2 separate regions of the Homo sapiens genome follow, and region 2 is linked to region 1. Evidence: fine-mapped expression QTL. A gene starts in region 1. The other region holds a variant in brackets. All regions are shown on one strand. Distances are between the middles of the regions. Region 1 holds the start of TYW2 (tRNA wybutosine-synthesizing protein 2). Region 2 overlaps TATDN1 (TatD DNase domain containing 1).

Region 1 (2,500 bases):
AGTCTTATTATGGAGAGTACTTAACTTTCTGGGAATGTAACCCAGCAGGTTTTGCTTTATTCAGCCTTTATTCAAGATGGAGTCACTCTGGTTTGGACTCCTCTGACAGCGGGAGTGAAGTAGAAGTGATAGGGTTTCTTTACAGTTCTTATATCCAACTATTTGATTTAGTCTATATGGAATTCCCCTTTGTCTTCTTTAGGAATATCAAAGCATTTCAACAGGTATTTAGTACCTGTGAGCTAGCCAACTTGTTACTTTGTATCTTTTTAAGTATCTACTCTTTACTAGTTATTGTCTAAGACACTATAATGTCTCTACTCACTATAGCAATCTTCTGAAGATTAGATTCCATTTTATAAGTGAAGATTCCAATTTTGAGGGGTGATACGATTTACTGGAACTCAGATCCTTCTGACTTTCAAATAGTTGTTTCTTGGACCAAAGGACAATGAAACAGTGATGACTATATCTGCATGAAAAGGGAAAAAGGGAGCTGTATCTGACTCTTCACTTTCAGAAAATAAGGTGGCTGCTGATGCTAACCTGAGAGCAGCATTAGGCTATGGGAAAGCTTTCTCCAAATTCAGATCATCATTTTGTTACAGGAAAGGGGTCCCAATGCAGACTACAACATGGGGTTCTTGGATCTCATGCAAGAAAGAATTCAGGGCAAGTCCGCAGTGCAAAGTGAAAGCAAGTTTATTAAGAAAGTAAAGGAATAAAAGAATGGCTATTCCATAGACAGAGCAGCCATGAGGGCTGCTGGTTGCCCATTTTTATGGTTATTTCCAGATGATATGCTAAACGAGGGGTGGATTATTCATGCCTCCCCTTTTTAGACCATATAGGGTAACTTCCTGACGTTGCCATGGCATTTGTAAACTGTCATGGCGCTGGTGGGAGTGTAGCAGTGAGCACCACCAGAGGTCACTCTCGTGGCCATTTTAGTTTTGGTGGATTTTGGCCGCTCCTTCACTGCAACCTGTTTTATCAGCAAGGTCTTTTTGACCTGTATTTTATGCTGACTTCCTATCTCATCTGGCGACTTAGAGTGCCTTAACCGTCTAGGAATGCAGCCCAGTAGGTTTCAGCCTCATTTTACCCAGCTCCTATTTAAGATGGAGTTGCTCTGGTTCATGCGCCTCTGACAATTTCATGTTAATTTTTCTCTTTGAATTCATGAGCAGCACTGAAGAGAGTGCATGAGGTTTCTGGAAAATAGCAATTTGAAGTCTTTTAGTCCATAAGATTCCCTGTTATAAATGTCTTCCTAGGCTGAAAAAAAAGTAATGGTTGACCATAAAAAAGATGGCGGCCGCAGCTTCTCCACAGCAACGGCAACGCCATTCTCAAGCAAGCGCATCAATATATTTAGTTCCGGCCTCTTTGCACGTCATTTCCGGCACCGGCATGGCCGGGTGAGCTGCAGGCTACCTTATTTAAGACCGGGAATTTAGTCAGCCTGGTGAGCCGACTCTGAGGAGATGGAGTATCGCTGAGGTGATGAGAGAGAATGTGGTTGTTAGCAACATGGAGAGAGAAAGTGGGAAGCCCGTGGCTGTTGTCGCAGTTGTGACTGAGCCTTGGTTTACCCAGCGATACAGAGAATATCTCCAGAGGCAGAAACTCTTTGATACACAGCACCGTGTGGAAAAGATGCCGGATGGCTCGGTGGCGCTACCGGTGCTGGGAGAGACGCTTCCAGAGCAGCACCTGCAGGAGCTGAGGAATCGTGTTGCCCCAGGCAGTCCCTGTATGCTCACGCAGCTCCCGGATCCTGTTCCTTCGAAGAGGGCCCAGGGTTGTTCACCTGCCCAAAAATTGTGTCTTGAGGTGAGTCGCTGGGTGGAGGGTCGGGGAGTCAAGTGGTCAGCCGAGTTGGAGGCTGATTTGCCCCGATCATGGCAACGGCATGGTAATCTCTTGTTGCTGAGTGAAGACTGTTTCCAAGCCAAGCAGTGGAAAAATCTGGGACCGGAACTCTGGGAGACCGTTGCCTTGGCACTTGGCGTCCAGCGTTTGGCAAAACGAGGGCGGGTATCACCGGATGGTACTCGAACTCCAGCAGTGACACTGCTGCTGGGTGACCATGGCTGGGTAGAGCATGTGGATAATGGTATCCGTTATAAGTTTGACGTGACCCAGTGTATGTTCTCCTTTGGAAACATCACTGAGAAGCTTCGAGTGGCATCGTTGTCCTGTGCTGGAGAAGTGCTGGTGGATCTCTATGCAGGGATTGGTTATTTTACATTGCCTTTCCTAGTTCATGCTGGTGCTGCCTTCGTCCATGCTTGTGAGTGGAATCCCCATGCTGTAGTTGCTCTGAGAAATAACCTTGAGATCAATGGAGTAGCAGATCGGTGCCAAATACACTTTGGAGATAACAGAAAACTGAAGCTCTCAAATATTGCAGATAGGGTGATCCTGGGGCTGATTCCCAGCTCTGAAGAAGGCTGGCCCATTGCCTGCCAAGTGTTAAGGCAGGATGCTGGAGGCA
Region 2 (3,031 bases), 52 kb after region 1:
CACAGAGGAGTACAGGCGTCAGGCACAGGCCTGAGCATGGAGACTGGGGCAGCCCACTAAACAGTGAGATCCTCTAACCCATCCTGCTCCAAAATACTGTCAGGGACATTTACAAACCCCTTCCCTCCACTGTTCCCCACTTTTCCAGCAGAGAACACAGGATCCCTTTCTGGAGAAACTGAACCAACCCAGAAAAAGATCTCTACAAACTGACATTTGGGAATCCCTAGCAAAAAGTCAGTTGGCCATCTGAGCCTGCCAGTTGCTGGAATGCCTTCTAGAGAGCTTCCAAATGGCTTTTTTTTTTCTTTTTTTAAATAGACAGTGAAGGACTGCCTGACATTTGAAGAAAGTTTCCATCATCACAGAGACCAAAGGAAAGAAGAAAAGGTGACTGTGAGGAAACAAATGCAGGAAGACAAGCAGAAAGTAACTTTAAACTATAATTCATGTCTTTAGAGAGATGAGAAGACACTGCAGTATAAAAATAGAGTATTCAGAAATTGAAAACAAAAGTTGAAGTAAATTTCATAAAAAGGGTTACAAAATATAGCACTTTTTTTGGAAGGAGGGAAACAATGGAAATAGAATAAAAAGAATACGAGTTATCAGTCTAGTATGCCCAAGAAAAGAACAGAAGAGAAAAATCAAATTCCAAGGACGGGTAAAGATGTGCCCCCCACTGGAAGGGCTAATGAAAAAGCAACACCAGGCGTGATGAAAACCATCAACACACACCTTCGTGAAATTTCACATCAGAGATGAAAAACTAAAACCTTTCACAAGAGAAGAAAACTAGGTCACAGGTAAAGGATTAGGAATCAGAGTAGCAACTTTTCATCAACACTGGAACCTACTGATGGGACAGTATAAATTCTCAATGAAAATGATTTCTGATCTTGAATTTTATTCAAGAGAACTATCCATTGAAAGTGGGGGGCTGGGTGTGGTGGCTCACACCTGTAATCCCAGCACTTTGGGAGGCCGAGACGGGCAGATCACGAGGTCAGGAGGTCGAGACCATCCCGGCTAACACAGTGAATCCCTGTCTCTACTAAAAATACAAAAACAAAAAAAATAGCCAGGTGTAGTGGCGGGCACCTGTAATCCCAGCTACTCGGGAAGCTGAGGCAGGAGAATGGCGTGAACCCGGGAGGCGGAGCCTGCAGTGAGCCAAGATCGCGCCACTGCACTCCAGCCTGGGCGACTGAGTGAGAGTCCCTCTCAAAAAAAAAAAAAAAAAAGTGGGGTTCTCTCCCCTTTCATTAACTATCCAGGCTAACTTGTAAGAGGAAGAGCAGAAAAAAAATTCATTTTCAAAATGGGAAGATGTATTTCAAACTTGACTTCAGAATCGTGTAGTTGCTCATCACTAAATGGGAAACCTTATTAAATAGAAATACTGGCTTGTATTTAAAAGAAACTTAATTCCCATGAAAACATCCTCAGAGGATGTTATAGAATGTGTTCCACTAAAACAAACACGCAAGGAATACATGGGATCTAAAAATAGGAACTAGTCCAAATTGAAACACATGGAAGGGTCTGCAACTGAC[G/GGAAC]GAACTATTAGATTATCTACATAGGTTTGCTCATGTGGTATACTGTGCTTAACATTTCTTTTCTTGTACTACTTTTTGTTTTCCTGGATTAACCTCCCTCATATTTTTATTTACTTGGCTTTCTTAAACTTGAAGCCCAGCCTGGGCACATAGCAAGACCCTGTCTCAACTAAAAATTTAAAAAATAGCCAGGTGTGGTGGCATGCACCAGTAATACCAGCTACTCAGGAGGCTGAGGTGGGAGGGTTGCTTGAGCCTGGGAGGTCAAGGCTGCAGAGTTGTGATCACGCCACTGCATTCCAGCTTGGGCTACAGAGCAAGCAAGTCCCTATCTTTAAAAAGAAACCAAAAAACAAAAAACTTGAAACCCTCTCATACTTGGCATAGCACTGTGAAATTATATATTTATATAGGCATAATAAGGAAACAACATTTATATAGACATAATAATGAAAACATTGAGTATGCATATAACCAAAAATTCTGAAATAACGACATTGAGAGTGATATGCAGAGAATGGAGGTAGGGGATTAGTACGGGATATAAGAACTAATGTGCTCATATACCCCAATGAGAATAGACAAAGGGGATGAATCAAGAGACAATAGTATATGGATATTATTTAGAAATATGGTGACAAATAGCAAAATTATTGCTGCTACAAAAGCTGACTTGGGGTAAGGTCATGCTGGGGGGACTCTGATATTTGTTCATATCTGTTAGTACTACTTGACTTTTTAATCTCTATGCATATATTCCCTTGCATATTAATTAATTTTAAAGTTAATTAAACCATTAATTTAAATATGAAAGCATCTTAGACATTTAAACTCTGAACTCTAGAGCAAATACATAATTCCATGATTCTATTTCCCTAGATTTTAGTCAAAAATAATGCAATTGGAAACATAATAATTTTAAGGGTATGAGACAATGAAGAAGGACAGAAACTCCTATACTATTTTGCAACTGATTTAATAGGCTACACTGACATCCTGTGAAAAGTCACTGGTAGAAGCTCTTACATATGTGACAAAACCAACCCAGAGACCTAGCTGTGCTAGCTGACTGTACTGAGTGTGTGAAGTTTAGTGTGGTACAACAGCAGAAAGATCACAGAGTGAGAAGCCAGAGGACATGGGTTCTCATACTTGGAGAAACTCTATACCTGTTTCCTAATTTCTTTGAGCCTCGGTTTCTTTGACTGCAGAGATGTATGACTGTCACAGAATAAACCGTTCGTCCATAGTCAGATATGACGTGTATATGTATACATAATGCTGTGAACACATGTTTTCAAGGGATCAAATGACCTGAGAATAAATTGGATTACCAGAGAAAGCCAGCTGCAGATCTCAACACAAAATTGTTTTCCATTATTAGAACATAATGTAGTAGTCTATAACTTTCGAGCTTTAACTTTTAATAGTAATGTACTGTTTAATTTCTTAATAAATAATTACTGAAATTCCCA

What was found. PIP is the estimated chance that this variant, and not a neighbour inherited with it, causes the effect. A credible set is the group of variants that fine-mapping cannot tell apart.
Region 2: its variant is the best candidate, but not a certain one, in a credible set for the expression of TYW2 in whole blood (INTERVAL, PIP 0.86).

Annotation. Positions count from the first base shown.
Region 1 is chr8:124,449,422-124,451,921 of GRCh38, forward strand. It overlaps TYW2 (tRNA wybutosine-synthesizing protein 2), which reads left to right and starts at 1,399. Exons shown (of 1, transcript NM_017956.4): 1 at 1,399-2,500. The coding sequence starts at 1,507.
Region 2 is chr8:124,501,115-124,504,145 of GRCh38, forward strand. All of the region lies in intron 9 of TATDN1 (TatD DNase domain containing 1), which reads right to left. Among named protein-coding and RNA genes, the nearest start is that of MIR6844, 5.9 kb to the right of the region's middle. The variant G/GGAAC (reference allele first, on the strand shown) is at 1,557.